Linked DNA regions of Homo sapiens: regions 2 and 3 are each linked to region 1. The links come from fine-mapping of genetic effects on gene expression. A gene starts in region 1. Each other region holds a variant in brackets. All regions are shown on one strand. Distances are between the middles of the regions.

Region 1 (8,268 bases):
GTGCGTGTGTGTATCAAAATTGTAAATAACTCTCGTTTCCTTGTATTGGAGGCTCTCAGGTTCTGAAATGTGAAATGGAAATAGCCTTCATAGACACGTTTCTGAGTGTGAGGAGGCAGTTCTTTGTCCTGTGACCATTTGAAAGCAAACCAGGTTACCCACCAATGCCTAGAACTTTGTAAGTGGCATCAAGATATAAATTTATAATTGTAAAATAACCTATCAGCAGTTTGGGGCTGGGTGTCATGGCTCATGCCTGTAATCCCAGCACTTTGGGAGGCCAGTGCAGAAGGATTGCTTGAGCCCAGGAGTTTGAAACTAGCCTGGGCAACATAGCAAGAGACCCTGTCTCTATTTAAAAGATTTTATATATATATATGATCATATATAATATATATAAGATATATATGATCATATATATAATATATATATATATGATCATATATATCTTATATATATATATGCAGTTTGGAATTCTATTTGTCTTGCCTTATTTGCTTTTTAAAAATTTCTACCTTAGTTTTTTCCTGGTTTACTTTGAGTGTTTTTTTGTAGTCGGAGGAGATTGTTGGTGCGGCTGGGTGTAGGTATGAGGCAGAGGAGGAAGAGTAATTTATTCCATCTACTGAGCCTTTCATTTACTTTCTGTTTTAGCAGTAGAGTGGGATGTCGGAAGCTTTTGTTGGGTGAGAGTCAATCTGTCAGGGTAAATCTTAAAAAGCTGGATTTGTGGTTTAGTTACTAGTTACTGTGTCTCCAGTGGAGACAAAGATTAGTTTTTAAGATTTAGCCTTAATGGATGATTCACAAATTGCAATGCAGAGTATTGAAGTTAAGTCCAAGGTCAAGCACACAAGTGGGTAAAACTGAACATATGAAATGGGTGTGTGGCTGGCACCCACCTCTGACCTTTACTGAAATAAATGAGGAAGACGGTGCTGTAAGTGGAATGCCACGGACCAGGAGTTAAGACCAGAGTCCTCTGCTAGGCCCTGCATCTGAAGTCTGCAGAGCATGGCTTTTCATTGGCTCAGTGAGGAGTTGAGTCCTGGTTCAGAAAAAGTTACCGAGGTCTGTAAAAGTCAGTAGGATACCGGAACAAGAAAGAGTGGGAGAGTGTACAGTTCCCAGCGAACATTGCCAGTGGAGGCTAATTTTCACCAGTGAAGGGCGATTTTGATAGAAAAGCACAGTGTCTCAACTACTTGTGGTTTTTGATTCTGAAAGAGGAGGCTTTGGCAGGAGCAATAATACACGTGGCCTACCACCTGTTTGGCTTTTTCCCCACAGGTTGCAAGCTGCAGGGAGGGCCTTGCTAATTCTAGTACCTCCATCCCCGAATCGTCTAAATGTATTTTACCCAGGACCTGTCATGGTTTATCTGAGTGACCAGTTTCCTTTCCTCTCTTGCTTATTTATCATGTTCATATTTATATTTTTCATAATGGGGCCTATTTATATATTTTGAAGTAGTTCTAGTGATTTTAAGATCCAGCAAAACTTCAAGGTCATCTGGATTTTGGTGTTCTATTTAAGTTTTCTAACTTGATACAGTCTTTTTTTTTTTTTTTGTATTTTGTATGTTTTTCTACAAAATGTGAGAGAGTTAAGCATGTATAATTACATATGACTGCTGTTTTCACTTTGAAATTTTAAATCCTGCTTGGGAGAATGGAATAAGCTATTGTGTTTTTTGCAGGCAGCTATGGGATATCCCAATTTGTCCCTCCCTCCTCCTTAATTTTGAAGCCTGAGAGAGGAAGTAATAATTTTCTTTTTTTTTTTTTTTTTTGGTAGGGATGGGGTTTGACTATGCTGTGCAGGTTGGTCTGCAACTCCTAAGCTCAAGTGATCCGCCCTCCTCCGCCTCCCAAAGTGCTGGGATTACAGGCCTGAGCCACCGTGCCTGGTCTGAAGAAGTAATAATTTTAAGATTCAGTGTTGAGTGAAATAAATGTATTCTTAAAAATTTCTAAGAGTGTTTAACTCTCTGACCTAATATTTAATATTTTCCCCAATCATTAGGAAGTGCTTTTTTGTTGTTGTTGTTGTTTTTTTTCCAGGCAGGGTCTCGCTCTGTCACCCAGGCTGGAGTGCAGTGGCATGGTCACGGCTCACTGCAGCCTTGACTTCCCGGGCTCAAGTGATTCTCCCACCTCAGCCTCCCAAGGAGCTGGAACTGCTCAGCTAATTTTATTTTTGTAGAGACAGGGTCTGGCTATGTTCCCCAGGCTGGTCTCAAACTCCTGGGCTCAAGCAGTCCTCCACCACTCCTGGCCAAGAAGTGCCTTTTTTTTTTTTTTTTTTTTTAAAGTAGCTGCTGAACACAGGAGAATCTGCCTTTTTCTTGAATCGTGGTTTTTTTGTTTTTTTTTTTTTCAAGACGGAGTGTTGCTGTTGTCGCCCGGGCTGGAGTGCTGTGGTGCGATCTTGGCTAATTGCAACCTCCGCCTCCCAGATTCAAGCGATTGTCCTGCCTCAGCCTCCCGAGTAGCTGAGATTACAGGCACGCACCACCGTGCCTGGCTAATTTTTGTGTTTTTAGTAGAAACAGGATTTCACCATGTTGGCCAGGCTGGTCTCAAACTCCTGACCTTGTGATCCACCTGCCTCGGCCTCCCAAAGTGCTGGGTTTACAGGCGTGAACCACTGCACCCGGCCTGAATCATGGTTTTTTGAAACCATTGGCATCTGAACCTGTAGCTCTCTCTGGTAGTGTTGTGTGGTTTTAAATGTCATGTGAGCTGAGTTACTGACCTCAACCTACTGCCAGATGAAGGTGTGATCCTGTGATACCAATCTTGAGGGTCCCTTCTAGTTTTAGCAGTCAGTGACTTCTCTTGTTTATTTTTGTTTGAAAAAGTAAAAGGCTCTCTTTTTGGCTATAGAGTTGCATCTTGAAATTTTTGACAAATTACATAGAGCTGAAGAAGGATACAAGTTTTGATATCTTAAAATCACAGGGTTGAAGCTTGAAAGGACAGTATTGGCATTGCAGCTAAGTGGGAGTGTGAGGAAGCGCCTTCTCTAGGGCAGGTAATTGCATCTGTTAATGTGGTCCTTGGGCCCCTGAGTTGCTGCCTTCCAATCAGAATTCCCTTAGCATTAGCCAGTGACGCCTGAATTAATCTCAGGTAGGACTTCTAACTTTTTTCCAAAATTATTTTTGTGCAGAGGTTTATCTAGATTTTTCTTCTAAATGTCCTCCTCCCCACTTGTTTTATTATTACTGTTTTTTTCTCTCTTTAATTTTTTTTTTTTTTTAATAGAGACATGGTCTCACTATGTTGCCTGGGCTGATCTCAGACTCCTGGGCTCAAGTGATCCTCCTGCCTCAGCTTCCCAAAGTGCTGGGATTATAGGCGTGAGCCATTGCGCCTGGCTCTGTTACTGTTTTTCTAACCTGAGTTACTTAGGATCATATTTTCATTCTTTTTTAAAAAGATGGGAGTTTTCTGAACTTTTCCTTAACTAAAAAGTGGAATGCATCTTAATATTTTCCTTTTTTTACTTGTGTTTCTCCCCAGGGAGGGAAAAACATATTTATTGTGACAGAATTTAGCATATTTTAGGCCACATTAAAATACTGATAAATGTATTAATCAGTGAAAATAGGTTATAGTGAAAAATATATACCATTTGATTAATAAAAATGTTATTGGAAAAATGCAAGAACTGCTGTAAGAATTGCTAACATTGTGTTGGAAAATAAATATACTAAGCTAAGAAACAATGGGAAACTGTCATATGTAGGGCCAACAGCCTTTTTTTTTTTAAACCCTTCCAATTTATTAATATCTAGTCTAATAAACCCTGATTTATAGGACCTCTGCACCTTTTTTGACTTTTTATTCATCCATTCTTAATATTCTACACTATGACAAAATCCTTAAAACTCCATTATTGATGAAATGGGAACAGACTTTTGTTTTTGTATGTTGGTGTTCTCTGAGTGGTGAAGGCCCAGGGAGAATGTTTTGTTTGGTGGTCACTTAGCATTTGAAAACATCCACTTCCTTGTGACTTAGCTGGGTATCTTTTAACATCTGGAAGCCACGTCCCTGATTGAAATCTCTGGAGACAACTTACCTTTCACCAACTTGTCTGCCAAATTGCACCATGGACCAAGATTGCAGTGGCTGCATCAAGTCTAGGCCTGCCCTGAAGTCTGGATTTGTAAGTCCCCCATTTCAAATGGGGCAGAAGGCAGAGGAGCAGAGGAGCCACTGTGCCTTTCGCTGTCCTGGAGCCAGTTGGCCTTCTGGTTTTGGTGAACCCTGCTTTTATAAGAGGACTCCCTGGCATCTTCCAGTTTCCCGCTACTTGTTTTATGTATTATTTTATGTCTGTGTTTGTCCTGGAGTGCTGTAACTCCTTTCACTGTCTGCTGTAAGTTCAACTTCTTCAATAAAAGAAATGTTTCAAATTGGATGAAAAATGGTTCTGTGATTATGGTTTGTGGGACGGGTTCTGATGCTTCATTTATGTTCTTCATACGGAATTCTGTCTCATTTCCCTAGTTCTAAATATGACCAGCAGACCCAGAGTTCCATCTCGACTTCATAAAGGAGCTGTCTTGGACTGGGAACAGCTGCCAATGTCTTTGTTGAGATGGGAGTTGGAAAGTGTTAGCACTTTGCCAGACTTTGCCAGCAAGATTAACTGAGGAGATCAAATTGAGTCAGGGTGAGTGAGGGTTTTAGGTGAAAGTTGCTCTCCAAAAGATTGGATACCTCTGCTGAAGACCTCTGCCTGACCTCCAAGGCTGGAGAGCAGCTCTTATCTGTGTCCTGGCTGGCTTTCAATGCATGTATCCTTAAGTCATCTGCCTCTACAAATTCGTACAAACCACTCGTTCCCCTCTCATCCCTAGCATGTTCCCCTAGTGGCTGCTCTGAATTCTCACCCCTGTTCTGGATGGTACTCTCCCACCTGCCTTGCCCTGCCCCTCTTCCGTCAGCTCCGGACAGGTCAACTTTAGGGAATAGATTGAGGCAGATGGATGTGACTTCTGATCTGACCTGTTCTCCAATTCTAAATATCAACCGAGTTTTACATCTCAGCCTTCCCTTCCTTCCCTTCAGAGTTGGAGGAATGGTACTTGTCTTGGCCTCTCCCCTCTTGCTTTTGCCCTTTTCTTTTGGGTGGTCTCTGTTGGCAGCAACCAGCACTTTTTTTCCCATTTGGCGTTTTACCTCTGTTCATGAACATACATAGAACCACTTTCTCCTGGTGAAAGACATTTATCTTACAAAATATTTAGTTTTGAAATAATTAAAAATATATAAATAGTTGTAAGACTACTACAAAGAACTTCCCTTTGTCCAGATAGACTAATTGTGAACATTTTGCCACATTTGTGTTATTATACATGTTACTTGTTAAACCATTTGAGAATTACAGACATCATGCCCTTTTACCCCTAAATACTTTTCAGTGTACATTTCCTGAAACAAGGACATTCTCATAACCACAATACAGTTATCAAAAGCAGAAAACATTAATATGCTATCTAATAATATAGAGTCCATGTTCAAATTTTACATAATTTCACCAAATAACAGCCCTTGCAGCATTTTTGTTTTTTCCCAATCGGATTCAATTCAGAATCGTGCATTGCCTTTAGTTGTTGGGTCTCTTGAGTCACCTTTCATCTCTAACAGTTCCTTAGCCTTTCTTTGGTTTACATGGCATTTTATTTTGGCCAGGCGCGGTGACTCACGCCTGTAATCCCAGCACTTTGGGAAGCCAAGGCGGGCGGAAAGCACTTGAGGCCAAGGAGTTTGAGACCAGCCTGGCCAACATGGAGAAATCCTGTTTCTACTAAAAATACGAAAGTTAGCTGGGCATGGTGGCGTGCACCTATAATCCCAGCTACTGAGGAGGCTGAGGCATGAGAATCATCAGAATCTGGGAGGTGGAGGTTGCGGTGAGCTGAGATTGAGCCACTGCATTCCAGCCTGTGACAGAGTGAGACTCTCAAAAATAAAAGCAAAAAAAAACCCAGTTATTTTGTAGAATATCCTGTAATGTGGGTTTGTCTGTTTCCTTATGATTAGATTCAGATCATGTATTTTTTTGGCAATAATACTACTGAAGCATTGTGCCCTGCATGTATCGGATCAGGAGGTGTGTGATGGATGTCATTTTGTTCCATCGCTGATGGTGGTAACTTTTTTTTTTTTTTTTTTTTTTTTTTTTTTTGAGATGGAGTCTTACTCTTTTGCCTAGGCTGGAGTGCAATGGCACAGTCTTAGTTCACTGCAACCTCCACCTCCTGGGTTCAAGCGATTCTCGTGCCTCAGTCTCCCGAGTAGCTGGGATTACAGACGTCAGCCATTGTGCCCAGGCTATTTTTTCATTCTTTTATAAAAATTGGCATCATAGTGTGCACCCTTTTCTGCATCTTGGTTTTTTTATTTATTTATTTTTTTGAGACAAGGTCTCATTCTCTCACCCAGGCCCTGGAGTGCAGTGTTGTGATTACAGTTCACTACGGCCTCAAACTTCTGGATGCAGGTAATCCTCCCATCTCACCCTCTTGAGTAGCTGGGACTACAGGGGAGTGTCACCATACCCAGATAATTTTTTGTATGTTTTGTACAGATGGGGTTTCACCATGTTGCCCAGGCTGGTCTCAAATTCCTGGGCTCAAGCGATCTTCCCACCTTGGCCTCAAGTGTTGGCATTACAGGTATGAGCCACTGTGCCTGGCCTGCATCGTGCTTTTCTTATTAGTACTTCATGGAAATCTCTCTTAGCTGCTGGAAGTCAGATTCATCCTTCTGATGTTTGGGTGACGTCCTAGGTGCAGATGCACTGATTTGTTCATTTCTGTGTCTATAATGGTTCACTTTTGGTTTTTGCTCCTATGAATGATGCTGCAGCAATCACTCTTCAACAGTGGCCTTTCACAAAGGAGTCATTTAAATTACTACCCACCATCCTACCCACTCCACTGAAACACATTTTATTTTATTTTTTTGAGACGGAGTTGCGTTCTTGTTGCCCAGGCTGGAGTGCAATGGCACAATCTCGGCTCACCGCAACCTCCGCCTCCTGGATTCAAGCAGTTCTCCTGCCTCAGCCTCCTGAGTAGCTGGGATTACAGGCATCCACCACCACACCCAGCTAACGTTTGTATTTTTAGTGGAGATGGGATTTCTCCATGCTGGCCAGGCTGGTCTTGAACTCCTGACATCAGGTGATCCGTCTGCCTCGGCCTCCCAAAGTGCTAGAAGTACAGATGTGAGCCACCGCGCCTAGCCGTTGAAACACATGTTAAAGATTGCCATGAGCCTGGTGTGGTGGCATGTGCCTGTTGTCCCAGCTACTTGGGAGGCTGAGATGGGAGGATCACCTGAGCCCAGGAGTGCAAAACCAGCCTGGGCAACATTGCAAGACCCCATCTCAAAAGATCGCCATGAACCCTTTTTTAATTAAAATAAAAATCAGAGAATTGCATGATTTAGGCTATAAACATCTTCCATAATCTCACCTACCAGAGATGACTGCTATTAATTTTGGAGTATATGTTTCCAGGCTCTTTTTTATGCATGTGCCAATATGCACATGCATATATTCTTAACAGAAATGAACTTAACATTTTACATACACTTTAGTTTTTTCACTGGTAACCTCTTAATTGCCTTTTTCAGTGGCTGTTTCTTTCCCTTATCACCTTAGGTCACTTTGTAGCGTCCCATTCTCCTAGCTGTCTTGTGTGTTTCTCCCTCTTTCTGTCCTCTAAATGTAGCCACTCCTCAAGTTTCAGTCCCCAGATTTCCAGATACTTGTTTTTATTATTTCTTTTCTTTTTTTTTTTTTTGAGACAGGGTCTCACTCTGTCATCCAGGCTGGAGTGTAGTGGTATGATCTCAGCTCTCTGCAGCCTCAACCTCCTGGGCTCAAGTAATTCTCCCACCTCAGCCTCCTGAGTAGCTGGGTGTATAGGCATGTGCCACCACACCTGGCTAATTTTGGATTTTTTGTAGATGTGGGGTCTCAATGTTGCCCAGGCTGGTCTCAAACTCCTGGATGCAAGCGATCCTCCCGCCTCGGCCTATTTTTTATTCCTAATTGGACAGCCTAGTATCACATGCATTAAAACCACTTTCCCTCTTTGCTCCTTTTTCTGAAAGTGGTTCTGGCATTTCTGTTAGCTTGCTTCTTGGCTTCCAAATCTCCTTCCCTTAGGCTGTCCTCTCTCCTTTGGTCCTTAGGTGTGAGCTGTTGCCAAGACACTGCTAGATTAGAGCATTCTTGGGT
Region 2 (8,000 bases), 24 kb before region 1:
GCCCCTCTGCATTTTCTCAAGAGCACAGCTTGGTCCTCTGCACATGTAGAGGGGTCTCACTGAATGTATTCGGCTCTCCCCTTCTCCTCCTTGTCTTCTCCCTCCAGCCTGGCTTCCTTTATGGGTTCCTTCGCAGCAAAGGTGTTGATGTTCCCAGGCAAATGGTAGATTCCTTTCTCCTCAGCTTAATGTGGGGCCCCGACAGCCCTTGAGTTCATGTAAGACAGCTTGGCGATCTTGCTTCTGCTGCACTGCTAATGACATGGTCCTCCTGCTCTGGGAGTGTGTTATCACACCTGTAACCAGGCCTCTCCCAGCTCAGATCTGGTCTGATATTTCTGTTTATGGGATACTTTTGCCCTACCTGTCATTACTTAAAATCTCAGCTTTGTTTTCTCCTCAGGCTAGCTCCCTTTTCCAGGTACTCCATTTGGGGCCATGATTCCATCTTTCTTCCAGTGTCCCAGGCCTGAGAAGCATCTTTTGAGGCTAATTCACAGTTTTATTTGTCTTCTGAAAGAGCTTCTAGATCCAGCCCCTTCTCAGATTGCTCACTGCTGCTGCAGTGGCCTCCTGACTGAACACTAAGTTCCCTCTAAGTTCCCAGCCCCCACCTTCCCTTTTGTTATATTGCATAAGTCTGCAGCCTTTCTGAGGGACTGGTTTTATCAAGTCACATTTCTGATCAAGGAAGTATCTCTTCAAACTTTTTTTTTTTTTTTGAGGCGGAGTCTCGCTCTGTTGCCCAGGCTGGAGATCTCCGCTCACTGCAAGCTCCACCTCCCAGGTTCTCACCATTCTCTGCCTCAGCCTCCCAAGTAGCTGGGACTACAGGCGCCCGCCACCACACCCGGCTAATTTTTTTGTATTTTTAGTAGAGACGGGGTTTCACCGTGTTTGCCAGGATGGTCTCGATCTCCTGACCTCGTGATCCGCCTGCGTCGGCCTCCCAAAGTGCTGGGATTACAGGTGTGAGCCACCGCGCCCAGCCTCTTCAAACATTTTTGCCTAAGTCTTCAAGCACCTCCTTGATTTTTCCCTTGCTTTACATAAAGCAAACCAAAACAGAAGATAGGAAGCTCATTTTCTTCTGATTATGAATAGTTAGGTCTTCATTAAAAAAAATTAAAGGCCAGGTGTGGTAGTTCATGCCTGTAATCCAGCACTTTGGGAGGCCGAAGTGAGAGGATCACCTGAGCCCAGGAATTTGAGATCAGCCTGGGCAACATGACAAAACCTTGTCTCTAAAAAAGAAAAAGAAACATGAAGAGAATCATACTCGCATAAAAGTCTATCAGGAGGACTGGATGCCAATATTTATGTAATTGATTCTTTCTCTTTTTAGAAATAGGGAAATAAATAAGAATGTTTCTTTCTTTTTTTTTTATTCCTGTACAATTTTGGTAACCAGTTTCATGCATAAGTTGTTGACTTTTTTTTTTTTTAACTCCTGTGCAATTTTGGTAACCAGTTTCATTCATAAGTCATTGTCTCTTTTTTGTTGTTTTTTTTTTGAGACGGAGTCTTGCTCTGTCTCCCAGGCTGGAGTGCAATGAATGGTGCGATCTCAGCTCACTGCAACCATCGCCTCTCGGGTTAAAGCGATTCTCCTGCCTCGGGTTCCCAAGCAGCTGGGACTACAGGCATACGCCACCACGCCTGGCCAATTTTTTTGTATTTTTAATAGAGACGGGATTTCATCATGTTGGTCAGGCTGGTCTCGATCTCCTGACTTCAGGTGATCTGCCCGCCTTGGCCTTCCAAAGTGTTGGGATTACAGGTGTGAGCCACCGCGCTTGGCCAATTTTTCTTTTTTTTAATTGTGTAAAATAGTACTGGGTAAAATACCACTGTGGATATAGTTGCTGAATAGATTGTCTTCTATTTGGGTTTTTAAAAAAAGTTCGTCCGTTTCAAAAAAAAAAAAAAAAACAAAAGAATGCCCTCAGTGTACTTTTGTTGGATGAGTAAATAAATCAGTCACCTCAGAAATCAAGGCCTTAACCTTCTGAAGATCCTTTCTTAATTAAGAATGTCACCCTGGTCACTGAAGTGCCCCTGCTCTCGTTTATGTTGACTTTCCAAAAATAACGGTAACCGAACATGCTGGAACCAGCAGAGAACTGGTTCGGCCTGACCTCAAGTAAGTTGAATATGCATTTTATGGCAGTCTTGAATTCTGCAGATTACTTATTACTTAACCACTGGTTTAGCTTCCCAAGCTTGTTCCTTTGGCAAATTAGCCCTGGAAGGGCAGTAAAGTACACAGTGAAGCCTGCTGTGAATTAGGAGAGTTCAGTTTGTCGGCATTAGAGAAATAATCTTCCTGGAAAGTTTAAGCAGTAATAAAACACTTTTTGGAAAAAAAAAATGGGCAAGTGGGGGAAGGAATGAAATGGGATGAAATATTGCAATAATTTATTACAGTAGTCTCTTTTTTTTTTTTTTTTTTGAGACGAGGTCTCTCTCTGTCCCCCAGGCTGGAGTGCAGTGATGTGATCATGGCTCACTGCAGTCCTTGACCTCTTGGGCTCAAGTGATCCTCCTTCTTCAGCCTCCTGAGTAACTGGAACCACAAGGGCATGCCAACACGCCAAGCTAATTTTGGTATTTTTTGTAGAGACAGGGTTTCACCATGTTGCCCAGGCTGTTCTCGAACTGCTGGACTCAAGTGATCCACCTGCTTCCCTAAGTGTTGAGATTACAGGCGTGAGCTACGGTGCCTGGCCTTATCATAGTAGTCTTTATTTATTTATTTTTGAGCCAGAGTTTCGCTTTTTTTTTTTTTTTTTTTTTTTTGAGACAGTGCAGTGGCCTGAGAGAATCGCTTGAACTCAGGAAGTAGAGGTTGCGGTGAGCCGAGATCACGCCACTGCACTCCAGCTTGGCAACAGAGCGAGACTCTGTCTCAAAAAAAATAAATAAATAAAAAATTAATAGAGGAACACAAAAATGTCTTCTATTCAACTTTGTTAATTAAATGACGGGTTGGCTGGGTGCTCTACAAAAAGAATAAAAAACTAGTTGGGCGTTGGTGGCACGTGCCTATAGTCCCGCTACTCCAGAGGCTGAGGTGGGAGGATCACTTGAGCCTGGGAGGCAGAAGTTGCAGTGAGCTGAGATTGTGCCACTGCACTCCAGCCTGGG[C/T]GACAGTGAGACCCTGTTTCGAAAAGAAAAGAAAAGAAATGATAGGTTAAATGTATTTAGAGATGTAAAAAGCCCAGGGAGACAGACGTCTTAGGGAAAAAAATGTTTTTTAATCTAGATCAAGGATGGATCTTGGAAATTGCCTCCTGAAGAGGAGGGTATATCTTTGTGAAAAATCAGAAAATGTCACTTTTGTTATTTTCTTTTCTGTATTTTAGGCATTCATTTTTGTTTCTAGTGGTCATTTTATTGTCATGATGATTACCAATAAAGAACAGGAGTTTTAAAATTTTGTAGAAACACTCCTTTTCTCCTTGTTATAGGCTTCTGGGTTGCAAGTATGTTGTAGAATATATGGGGTGAAAACCACAGTCTTGTTACAGGTTTTAGAAATTGACTTCACATGAAGTTAGTGAAGCTTTTGGTTTTTGTAGGTCTACTTCACAATTTTAAAAATTGTATTTGGTTTAAGTGGGTCTGGGAAGAAGTTCACCCTGCTTCTTTAATTGTATTTTTCTGTTGCCGTTGTTCTTTCAGGGGCTGCGTATTGTCAGTTTATGGACATGCTGTTCCCTGGCTCCATTGCCTTGAAGAAAGTGAAATTCCAAGCTAAGCTAGAACACGAGTACATCCAGAACTTCAAAATACTACAAGCAGGTTTTAAGAGAATGGGTGTTGACAAAGTAAGTAAACGTTATCTTTTATTGTGGTTAATGTTCCTTAATGATCGTTACTAAGGAGGTAGATGCTAGCTTATGACTTTGGACATTTTCTTTTTTTTCTTAATTTATCTAGTTAACTTTTCTCAGTTAACACAGAATTTACTGGGAGCAGTTTGCCCCTACCTTCTTGCCCCTATTCCCCTTGCTTGTTTCTTTCTTCATCGTCTGTGAAGTTAGTAACTGTTTAGAGGAGTCAGCCTGTAAATTTGTACAGTGATTTTTATTTTTAAAAAATTCCTGTGTAATCTCTAGTAGTCTGGAATCTAACTCTCTTAATCTGGATTTACTTCTGTAAAAGCATACTGTATGTAGAATAGTTCCAGTAGAGAAGATTCTAGGCCAGGCGTGGTGGCTCACACCCGTAATCCCAGCACTTTGGAGGCTGAGGTGGAGAAGATTCTAGAAATACTTGCTTTTTATAGAAGGTTACAAGGAGGCTCCGTGGTGGGTGCTGGAAAACTCCTTTCTGCCCCCAAAGGTTTTTGAAGGTAACAGAAACATGGTCCACCAGGCATGGTTTAGCACAAACATTTAATGTTTAGCACAAATATTACCTCTGTTTTAGTAGATAATAGATTAAGTAGTTTATCCCTTCCCCCACCCTTGTGAAGGGTTTATCCTTTTAAGCCATTTTTGGGGGGATAACTTTTTTTTTTTATGGCAAAGGTAGTAACACCCCCAATTATCTTGCTGGTGTCTGGTTTTTATTTATTTTGAAATCAGGGTTTTTTTTTAATTTTAGTTTTGTCTCTACAATATATAAAATAGGCATTTATAGTATAAGAATATCACTTAACTTTCCAGGCATAGTTTAAATAGAGTTCATATACAGTAATTTTGCATTCATTATTATGGAATTTTATTTTTTGAATATGGAAAATGTCTAAAGTATATAAAAGTAATAATAGTGTATAAACAATAAATAGTAAATAGTGTAATGATCCCTCATGTAACTCAATGGTTAGCATGGCCAATTTTGTTTTATATCTAATTCTATCCTATCCTATGTATTCTGGGTTATTGAAGTGAGTACAGAGGTAATATTTGTGAATGTTTCAGTATCAAGCAAAGTAACTTTTAAAAATTATATTTGTCAGAGGGGTGGATATATTATTGGATATATTCTTTTTATAATACATTGCAACTGGAATCTTTGGAGATTAAAAGATAGTTAAAAGCCAGGCATGGTGGCTCATGCCTGTAGTCCTAGCTACTCTGGAGGTTGAGGCAGGAGCATCATTTGAACTCAGGAGTTTGAGGCAGCAGTGAGCTATGATTGCAGCATAAGACTCCAGCCTGGGCAACAGAGCAAGACCCCATCTCTAAAAAAGATTAAAAAGTTAAGTTGTGGCCAACACTTCAGTGATTTGAATACTTGAAAACACAGTATTCTTGTATAATAGAAATACTTACAGGGTCCTTATGTATATTTGTTATTTTTTGTGTGTGTGTTTTTATTGGTGTTTTTTTTTTTTTTTTGAGATGAGGTCTTGCTGTGTTGCCAGTGCTGGTCTAAATTCCTGGACTCAAGCAGTCCTCAAGATAGCTAGGATTGCAGGTGGGCAGCCCTGCCCCCAGCAAGCATGTTTTAATAGGATTTGGAATTACTTGGAAAACATGTCATTTTGTAAAAATTTATCCTGAGACTGATTCTGCATCTTGATCTATTTTCAGGTTAGAATTATTCTTTTTTCTTTTCTTTTCTTTTCTTTCTTTTTTTTTGAGACAGAGTCTCACTCTGTTGCCCAGGCTGGAGTGCAGTGGTGCAATCTCAGCTCACTGCAACCTCCACCTCCCGGGTTCAAGTGATTCTCGTGCCTCAGCCTCCTGAGTAGCTGGGATTACAGACGCCCGCCACCACACCCGGCTAATTTTTGTATTTTTAGTAGAGACAGGGTTTCACCATATTGGCCAGGCTGGTCTCGAACTCCTGACCTCAAGTGATCTACCTGCCTTGACCTCCCAAAGTGTTGGGATTACAGGTGTGAGCCACCACGCCCGGCCCAGAATTTTCTTGAACACAGTTCATTGTAGATGCCTTTGGTTGGTTTGTGCAATGGATTTTTCTTCCCTTTTCTTAAATGGGGTCTCTCTCTGTCACCCAGGCTGGAGTGCAGTGGCACAGTCTCGACTCACTGCAACCTCTGTCTCCTGGGCTCAAGCAGTCCAATCTCAGCCTCCCAAGGAGCTGGGACCATAGGCGCATGCCACCACACCTGCCTAATTTTTTTGTATTTTTGGTAGAGCCTAGGTGTCACCATGTTGCCCAGGCTGGTCTCAAACTCTTGCCCGCCTTGGCCTCCCAAAGTGCTGGGTTTACAGGCATGAGCCACTGTGCCTGGCCTGTGCAGTGGATTTCATGCTTTGTGATAGGCATTGTGGCCATGCAAGTTATATAGCGGACCTACTCTTTATAGCATAATGCACTTTTGTATCACGTCTTACGATGTGCTTGGATGGATGTGTGTATGTGACTTATATGGTACTTGTTCCTTTTTTGTTTCTGATTCCTTTTCATACATTTGAGAGAGTGGGGAGGGGTTGGGAAGTGTAGGTACTCTTGAAGGCAAACTGCATGAAACTTGCTTTATAAATTTAGGGGCTTAGCCCTAAGGTCTCTAAAATATTTTTTTCTCCTTTTGGCAGAGCTTTATAATGAATTGATGCATGGACTAGTTTGATGCTTGCCAAAAGCCTCTTTTTTGGGGCTAAACAGTTGTTTTTCTCTGCAGATAATTCCTGTGGACAAATTAGTAAAAGGAAAGTTTCAGGACAATTTTGAATTCGTTCAGTGGTTCAAGAAGTTTTTCGATGCAAACTATGATGGAAAAGACTATGACCCTGTGGCTGCCAGACAAGGTCAAGAAACTGCAGTGGCTCCTTCCCTTGTTGCTCCAGCTCTGAATAAACCGAAGAAACCTCTCACTTCTAGCAGTGCAGGTAAAAAAACAACCCCAAAACGTTTCCAAAAAATAGCGTTCCAGATATTCATTCAGCGTTCAACTAGAATTTTTTTCAGTAGCCATAGGCTTAGGGATCTTAAGAAATATAATCCCAGGCATGTGGCCAGAGTATGGATTTTGGCATCAGGCAGATAACGGTGTGTGTCCTTAGGTGTCTGTAGCCCTGTGTAAGCAACTTCAACTCTGCCCCACAGTTTCCTCCTCTATAAAATGGGAATTTTAATACTTGCCCCAGAGGGTTTTTGAAACTTGAACAAGTTACTGTATGCAGTTTTGCCAAAGCTCTAGAAATCCATCAGGCTAGCTCATGTAAGAGAGCATTAGTTTGTTCCAAAACAAGGGCATTTTTACAGAGCCCTAGGATGGGAAGTTATACCAGAGCTGAACTCCTTGAAGGAAGTGTGTAGGTCTCTCAGGGACTGCTCTTGGCTGTCTGTGTTATTCTCTCTGTAGACCAGCTTCCTGTGTATACTCACAGCTTCCCTACCTGCCCTAGAACTTTAGCTGCTAGGTGACTTTGGCTTGCCATGGTGCTAGCAGAGTCAGGGGCGGGGGTAGGGGAGAGGCTGATTTTACATACCTTCTCAAAAGGGTATGGGCTTGGTAGCTTTCCCAAGATGTGTTTACATTAGTATAGAATGTGTATATTTTGGGGCAGGGTAGATACTCTACAGATGCTAATTTCTTCTTTTCCAGAGGATGGCAAGAATATTAGTTAAGGTTTCATAATACCTAGAGAGAGGCTTGTTCATCTGATAGAGAGGGTAGGTTGAGTGCTTTCTAAATAGCTTAATGGAGAGACAATTCGCATGCCATATAATTATATTTTTATATTTAAAGTATAAAGTTAAACGGTTTTTAATATATCCAAAGAATTGTGTAACTATCACCACAATCAATTTTAGAACATTTTCATCACTCTGAAAAGAAACCCTGTGCTGGGCGCAGTGGCTCATGCCTGTAAATCCCAGCGCTTTGGGAGGCTGAGGCAGGCAGATCACTTGAGGTCAGGAGTTTGAGACCAGTCTGGCCAACATGGTGAAAACCCATCTCTACTGAAATACAAAAATTATCTGGGCATGGTGGTGCATGCCTGTAATCCCAGCTACTCAGGAGGCTGAGGCAGGAGAATCGCTTGAACCCAGGAGGTGGAGGTTGCAGTGAGCCA
Region 3 (8,268 bases), 78 kb before region 1:
GCCTGTAATCCCAGGCCAAGGCGAGTAGATCACCTGAGGTCAGGAGTTTGAGACCAGCCTGGCCAACATGGTGAAACCACGTCTCTTCTAAAAATACAAAAATTAGCCAGGCATGGTGGTGCAAGTCTGTAATCCCAGCTACTCGGGAGGCTGAGGCAGGAGAATCGCTTGAACCCGGGAGGTGGAGGTTGCAGTGAGCCGAGATCGCGCCACTGCACTCCAGCCCAGGTGACAGAGACTTGATCTTAAAAAAAGAAAAAAAAAAAAAAATCCATGGTGGTAGACAGTGTTCAGCCTACAGTAAGTAGGGCCCTGGGAACTGTTAGCTACTTAATGTTACAGTGGCAGTGTGGGATGATGCAGTTCTAAATCCAGCATGTCTGCCACTCTGGATAGGTCATATTAGATAAAGCAGTTGGCTTGTGATGGGGGCCATGTTATCTGGAAATGCCAGCCTTGAATCATGAAGTCAGTGAGATACATAGAAAAGAGGTGGGGGAGATTTGTATCCACTGGTACACACCTGATGCTAATTTAATTTCTCTTGTCCTGATTCTAAGAACATGTAGTTAAATTTGTATGTTATTTACTTTCCCTATATATTGATCAAGGAGGTAGTATGTCAGTCTCTGTCTTGGTTTCTCCATCTGCAAAACAGGAATAACAGTACTTACCACATTTAAAGGTTAAATGAGTTAAGATAAGTAAAGCCAAAACAGTGCCTGACACATAGTAACACTGAAAAAAAGATGACCTTATTGGGGGGATTTTTATATATTTATATATGTGGGAAGAAAGGCCTAGGAGAGAAGCTTTTATTCCTGGATTTTGAGCTGTGGGTTTTGAGGTCTGAGAAAGGAAGCAGGAGGTGTAGGGAGTTGGGGAGGGCTTCCAGGCTGAGAGAACACAGCAGCACATGCCTCGAGGCTAGATTGTCTTGGCCTGCGTGTAGACTGAAGCGGGGTGGGGGAGGAACTGAGCTGGGCATCTTTAGTCATGGGTGCAGGTTCTGAAGTTGGTGTGCGCTGTCTACACAGCTGTGGCTATAAGGCAATGAGGGTAGTTAATTTCACTACAAACGTAGGGTCGTGATAAAAACAGAAGGAATTTTAAATGAAATCACATTGAATTATGCAACGAGAAGAAAGCATATATAAGTGCTCAGCTTGCTCCTGGGGGACACCCAGGTAGCTAGTGCCATTTATTGTGGGTTTTCTTCCTGGACTGTCTCTCCAGTACCCACAGGTCTTGTTCTAGGGGCTTGAGGCTTTTCCTGAATGTTGAGATATGGGTTTTGGAAGGTGTGCTGCCCACACGTTGGGTAGGCTGGTGGCCAGTTGGCACTGCTGAGGCCCTGGGGGAAGGCCCAGGGTGGTTAATCATTGTCAGCCTGGGTCTGTCTAGGAGGTGAGACTCCTGTCTGGCTTCTTGTTGACCCAGTTAGGGCCTGTCTGAGGAATGGGGTTCAATGTTGCCTGCGAAACCCAGCACACATTAGAACCCCAGGCCCTGGATGAAGGCGAAGGAGGTCACATCCTTCACTCCAGGCCTCTGGTCTGCTACCAGCTCCTGGCCACAAACAAACCCTGTGTGTCCTCCCCCCAGAGCACTTTGGGGAGGTGGACCCTCCTGGAGACACCAGGTACACCAGGTAGCCCCACCTCCCACTCTATGCCAGGCCCACTAGGTTACTTAGTTCACTGATTTGGCCTGAGGTGAAACGCTTGAAATTAATGATTATTCTGAACCGACACCGCAGCAGCTTTCCTGGGATTCTGACTGCTTTGTCTCATAGGAACTGGCCATAGGTCAGCCAGCCTGTTCTTCCGGGTCAGGGCTTGGGAGAAAAAGGGCTGAGAAGCAGCTGATTGGTCTGATTCAGGCACGTCCCTTGTCCTTGGTAGGGGAAATTCCTTAACAGGTGCTGATACACACTCTGGATCATGTGAAGCACAGAAAGCCTATGTGTTATGTATCAGCGCACATGTTTATAATCTGAACAATGCTGCTTTAACATGCATATTAATCACCTAGGCATGACTTGTGTGTGTTAAAATGTCTTGTGAAAATCCCGCTTCAGGCCGGGTGTGGTGGCTCACGCCTGTAATCCCAGCACTTTGGTAGGCTGAGGTGGGCAGATCACGAGGACAAGACATCGAGACCATCCTGGCCAACATGGTGAAACCTGTCTCTACTAAAAATACAAAAATCAGCTGGGCGTGGTGGCGCATGCCTGTAATCCCAGCTACTCAGGAGGCTGAGGCAGGAGAATCGCTTGAACCTGGGAGGCAGAGGTTGCGGTGAGCTGAGATCGTGCCATTGCATTCCAGCCTGGCGGAGGTCGCACCACTGCACTGCAGCCTGGCGACAGAGGGAGACTCTGTCTCAAAAAAAAAAAAAATGAAAACCCTGCTTCAGGACATCTAGCTTAGTGGTGGAGATTTCTCCAGCCAGCTCCCACTTCCAACAGTTCTTCCAAGCAGCTCTCAGTTCATGGTACTGTAGCCTGCGTGGCTCCTGGGCCACACAGGGAGTAGCAGCAGAGGTCCAGTTGCCCCATGCCATGGGCAGGTGCAGGGTCTGGAATTGGGAGCTCTCACCACAGATTGCACCTCTGCCTGGGGGCGCCACTGGGCTCATCAGACTGAGCTCACGGTGCCCCCTGGTGGGCGATGCCAGTGGCGCCAGTGCAGCTTGGAGCCCGCAATACAAGGTGTGGCTTCTAGAAGGTACCCTGGTTTGAGATGCTGAGGTGGGAGGATCCCTTGAGGCCAGGAGTTTGAGGCCAGCCTGGGCAACATAGCCAGACTCTGTTTCTACAAAAAATTAGCCACACCTGGTGGCACACACCTGTGGGCCCAGCTGGAGGATCACTGAAGCCCTGGGAGTTGAAGCCTACAGGGAGCCGTGATCACGCCACTGCACTCCAGCCTGGGTGACCAAGTGAGACCCTGTCTCTAAGATAGATGGATGGATGGATGGATGGATGGATGGATGGATGGACAGATAGAAGATAAACTGCGAGGCTAGCACGGGTTGTCTGGCAGGGGCTGGTATGTCTCCACGATGGAGCCCGAGGCAGGGAGGCCCGGTGCATATGGCAGCAGCTTATTGGGGAAGCTTTTCCCAGGCACGGTTCCAGGACACAAGGGTGTGGTGTGAGTGACCTGGAGCTGTTTGTGGTTCAGGGATGGGGGCCTGGAGGTCTCATTATGCCTAGGCTTTTATAATATTTTTGCCAACCAAAGGTGGAACAAAAAGCAAAGGCAAGTGACTTGGAAAACTCGGTTTCAGCGGGGATTTATGCCCTGAAGTTTTTTACTCGTTCTCTATCTAATCCTGGCCCTACCTCTTAGATGGGCTATATGACCTTGGAGAATAACCTAGTCTGGATGTCAGTTTTCTTTTTCTAGAAGGTGAGCTCCCCAGTCTCCCTAGGGGGAGATACAG[G/T]TTGTTGCATCCAACAAAATCTGTGTGCCCATAATGTTGCAGGCAATGGGCCAGCCCAGAGGTTATAGCCTGCCAACCCATCCGTATGGCCCTGGCCCTGTGTGTTAGCTGATTTACCTGACCAGGAGGGGCAGCAGTGGGGAGGCCAAGTCCCAGAGGTGAGGGTGAGGCTACAATGGATCTGGGGAGTCCCCCTCCTGGTAACTGCCCCCAGGCTTTCTGCCTGTGCCTCCATCCTTCCCTCCTTGGGAACTTGGGACTCTGAGCCCCAGCTGGTGAGGGAGGAGGGGAGTGAGCGACAGGCCAGCAGACCAATGGGCCCTGGAGGATGGGGTGAGGCGGGGCTTGTGCTGCCATGGAGAGGAGAGAAGCGGTTCTGTGGGGGAGGAGGGGGTGGGTGGGAAGAGGACCTGGAGATTGAGGGGAAGGGAGAGAGCAAACAAAGGGGTCAGGAGGGAAAATAATGCACTGGCTTCCTGAGCCCCTGCAGAGGCTGAGCAGGGAGAGGGGGCCAGGGCCAGAGGGGACAGAGGCTGGCGGCAGACGGGCCGGGACAGGCAGGTCCTAAATGGCATTGTTTGAAGGGGCCGGCTAATTGCACAGAGCAGTCTGAGCCTGAGACCCCAGCCCTGGCCTCCCCACTCTGTCCTGGGTGCTGGCGTCTGAGCCTTCGGGACAGCCTGTCCACATGGAACCAAGTCCTGAGCCTCCAAGCTTGGTGAGGGGGAGGCTATGGGGGGCAGCCTGGGTGGGGTACTTGGGCAAGAGCATCACCCTAAGAATGCATCCTGGGGCCTTGGCCTGAGAACACAGAGCCCATGGCGGGGGAACACTGTCCCTCTCATGTCCCTGCTTCCCTTTCACCCCACCCATTCTGGCTTCTCCCACAGGAAAGCATGAAGGGAGACACCAGGCATCTCAATGGAGAGGAGGACGCCGGCGGGAGGGAAGACTCGATCCTCGTCAACGGGGCCTGCAGCGACCAGTCCTCCGACTCGCCCCCAATCCTGGAGGCTATCCGCACCCCGGAGATCAGAGGTGGCTGGGCAGTGGGGACTGGGGTGGTGTCAGGCGCTGACATAGTGAGCGGTCACTGCAGACAACTGGAGGCTTTGGGGAGAGTCTCTGACAACCTCCACCACAATTCCCCGGGAGGGAAGAGAGCTCTAGCAAGGAGGGATGCAGGGTCGAGCCCTTCACACCTGCCCGCAGCCCTTGGCCTCCCCTTTGGGACTCTCATCTCAGCTGGGACTCTGAGCGTGACACAAGGGTGATGGTTCCCTGTCCTCTGCCAGTCATGACAGGGGTGGTCTCAGCATGGGCCCTTGGAGAGCCCTTCTGCAGTGGGACCCTCTCCCCACTCAGAGCTGGGCTGGGGTTGGGAGGGGGAGGTCTGGAGTGTGCTTCCTTTCCACCCTGCCCTGAGCAGCTCCAGCCAGCTCACTTGGGATCCCGCCCCAGCTGGGTTGGAAAGCCCTGCATTGTCCTCTCAGCTGTGCCATCCCATGGAACTTCCTGCGAGCGTGAAAGGGTTCTATTTCTGCATTGTTCCCCACAATAGCCACACTCTACATGGGAGCACTTGAGAAGCGGCTGACACAGCAGGCAGTGAATTGTTCCTGGAAATGTAGTTAGTGGTCCCTGGATGGGCAGCACCCTGCTGGAAGGAATCGGAGGGCTCCCCTTGGTAACTTCAGTGTTGGTTTGGGTCCTGTCACGTGCCTGGCCCAGGGCTCTGTTGTCTTAGGAATAAAATCAGTGGAGAAGATGAACGATACTGACGGACTGAGAGCAAATCCCTGTGGCTGACAATAGTGTAGGGGAGATCCCAGGCCACGCCACGGAGAAAAGCCCCTATTAGCAAGGCCGTTCCCCAGACTGGTGCCTGCCCCCACAAAACAGACTCCTGGCTGTTTCCTCTACAGGCCGAAGATCAAGCTCGCGACTCTCCAAGAGGGAGGTGTCCAGTCTGCTAAGCTACACACAGGTATGGTCTCTGCTCTCCCTTTTTCAGGGCTCAGGGACTTTGTCTTTGGCTTTCATCACGTGGGCTGCCTGAGGCCCATAAAAACTGGCATCTGCAAATGTATGGAGGGTTGCCGAGCTAGATGCTTTCTGCATATATTTGGCATTATTTTTTCAATCTGGACGATCAGTTACATTGCTAAATCTCTAATATGGTAGTCCCCTCTTATCTGTCATTTTGCTTTCCACGATTTCAGTTGCTTGCAGTCAACTGCCGTCTGAAAGTATTAAATGGAAAATATTAAATGGTAAATCCCAGAAATAAACAATTTATACATTTTAAATTGAGTGCCATTCTGGTAGCATGATGGAATCTTGCACTGTCCTGCTCCGTCCTGCCCAGGATCAGTCCTGTCTTTGTCCAACATCTCTATGCTTAGGTGCTACCTGCCTGTTAGTCACTTGTAGCCGTCTCCGTGATCAGATCAGTTGCAGTATCACAGTGGTTGTGTTCAAGTAGTGCTTGTTTTACTTAATAACGGCTCCAAAGTGCAGGAGTGATGACGCTGGCAATTCAGTTATGCCAAAGAGAAGCCATGAAGTGTTTCCTTTAAGTGAAAAAGTGAAAGTTCTCAAAAAGGAAAGAAGAAATCATATGCTGAAGTTGTTAGATCTGTGGTAAGAACAAATCTTCCAGCCGTGAAATCATGAAGAAGGAAAAATAAATGCATGCTAGTTTTACTGTTGCACCTCAAACTGCAAAAGTTATGGCCATGTTGTGTGATAAGTGTGTAGTTAAGATGGGAAAGGCATTAAATTTGTAGGTGGAAGACATGAACAGAAATATGTTCTGATTGACAGCAGTGCTTTGTGCCAGGGAGCATTGAGCCTATAGCAAGGGATCCCCTGACACCAAACCATTTACTTCAAGTAAGGGATGGTTACATAGATTCAAGAATAGGTTTCTACTGAAAACTATAAAAATGACTGGAGAGGCTGCATTTGCCAATGAAAAACCTGCTGCTACATTTTCAGAAGAGTTGAAGTTGATTGAGAAAGGAAACAATCCAAAACTAAGACTGCAGTGAAACCAGACTCCTCCAGAAGATGATGTCTAATAGAACCTACCTTCATAAAAGTGCAAAGGAGGAAGACACTAGGTCATAAACCATGGAAGGACAGATTAACCCTGAATAGAGTACAAGAAGATATTTTGAGAGAGAAACCACATTCATATGGCTTTTATTAACAGTATATTGTAATTGCTCTATTTTATTATTAGTTGTTAATCTGTGCCTAATTTATAAATTAAACTTTATCATAGGTATGTAGATATAGACAAAAACAGAGCACATATAGGGTTCCATCTTCCAAGGTGTCAGGCAGCCATGGGGGGTCTTGCATGTATCCCCCCTGGATAAGGGGAGACTACTGTATAGCAAACTGTCTTTTTATTCCTGGAATGAGTCCAACTTGGTTATGGTGCATTTTGAAGTTGATTTTATTCATGTATTCATGAATGAAATGGGTATTTTTTTTTATTCATTTATTTTTGAGATGAAGTCTGTTGCCCAGGCTGGAGTGCAATGGCATGATCTCTGCTCACTGCAACTTACTGCCTCCCAGGCCCAAGCGATTCCCCTGCCTCAGGCTCCCGAGTAGCTGGGACTACAGGCAATGGACCACCATACCCAGCCAATTTTTTTGTATTTTTAGTAGAGATGGGGTTTCACCATGTTGGCCAGGCTGGTCTCGAACTCCTGGCCTCAAGTGAGCCACCTGTCCCGGCCTCCCAAAGTGCTGGGATTACAAGTGTGAGCCACCATACCTGGCCCATTTTATTTCTTTAAATATATCTATGGTTTTGATGTTAGGATTAGGTGGGCTCAAGGAATTTTTTTTACAAGCTGGAAGAAACTTGTCTAAGCTTATTTTAATGAATTTCAAACAATTATATCTTCTAAGACTTGCTACATTATCAAGCTTTCTACTTCATTTACTTTTCCAAGGTTGGATCTTTCCCATCTTGTTTTGTGTTCCTTCCTTTACTGACACCGTCTGTTTCCTAATTATTCTTAGTAGAGTTTGTCAATTGGGTTGGTTTTGCTCAGAGCCAGTATCAGTCATAAAAGTCCTGGGCAATGAAAACTCACCCTCAGCTTCCATTCTCTTGGTGGTGGCCAACCTACTTAGGGGACTCAGAAGGTGGGGAACCTAAGCCCTGGGAGGAATTAGGGCAGCTGCAGGATCAGAGGCTCAGCACTGCTGTTTTGTTTCTGGTAGCTAGTTACCAGAAACAGTAATGAAATCTCTTGCCCACACGTTTCTTTTTGTTTGTTTGTTTTGTTTTGAGACAGAGTCTCCAGTCTGTCGCCCAGGCTGGAGTGCAATGGCACGATCTCGGCTCACTGCAACCTCCGCCTCCCAGGTTCAAGTAATTTTCCTGCCTCAGCCTCCCAAGTAGCTGGGCTTACAGGCGTGCACCACCATGCCCAGCTAACTTTTGTATTTGTATTTGTATTTTTTTTTTTTTTTGAGATGGAGTCTTACTCTTGTTCCCCAAGCTAGAGTGCGGTGGCGCGATCTCGGCTCGCTGTAACCTCCACCTCCCAGGTTTAAGCGGTACTCCTGCCTCAGCCTCCTGAGTATGAGTAGCTGGAATTACAGGCACATGCCACCATGCCCTGCTAATTTTTGTATTTTTAGTAGAGACAGGGTTTCGCCATATTGGCCAGGCTGGTCTTGAACTCCTGACCTCAGGTGATCCACCCGCGTCGGCCTCCCAAAGTGTTGGGATTACACGCCTGGCCTAATTTTTGTATTCTTAGTAGAGATGGGGTTTCACCATCTTGG

The links.
Region 2: its variant is fine-mapped to the expression of EFCAB8 in whole blood (TOPMed, PIP above 0.99).
Region 3: its variant is fine-mapped to the expression of EFCAB8 in whole blood (TOPMed, PIP 0.95).

Annotation. Positions count from the first base shown.
Region 1 is chr20:32,854,321-32,862,588 of GRCh38, forward strand. It overlaps EFCAB8 (EF-hand calcium binding domain 8), which reads left to right and starts at 4,603. Exons shown (of 27, transcript NM_001143967.2): 1 at 4,603-4,686. LOC119746555 (a long non-coding RNA gene) reads left to right here and starts at 2,312. Exons shown (of 1, transcript NR_171378.1): 1 at 2,312-4,431. RefSeq lists an enhancer at 4,470-5,282.
Region 2 is chr20:32,830,033-32,838,032 of GRCh38, forward strand. It overlaps MAPRE1 (microtubule associated protein RP/EB family member 1), which reads left to right. Exons shown (of 7, transcript NM_012325.3): 3 at 3,685-3,830; 4 at 6,602-6,809. Among named protein-coding and RNA genes, the nearest start is that of MAPRE1, 14 kb to the left of the region's middle. RefSeq lists an enhancer at 2,548-3,048. The variant C/T (reference allele first, on the strand shown) is at 3,148.
Region 3 is chr20:32,775,978-32,784,245 of GRCh38, forward strand. DNMT3B (DNA methyltransferase 3 beta) reads left to right here. Exons shown (of 23, transcript NM_006892.4): 2 at 4,341-4,488; 3 at 5,376-5,437. The coding sequence starts at 4,347. Among named protein-coding and RNA genes, the nearest start is that of DNMT3B, 18 kb to the left of the region's middle. RefSeq lists enhancers at 1,498-2,046, 2,082-2,583, 2,449-2,578, 3,085-3,585, 3,586-4,086 and 3 more. The variant G/T (reference allele first, on the strand shown) is at 3,451.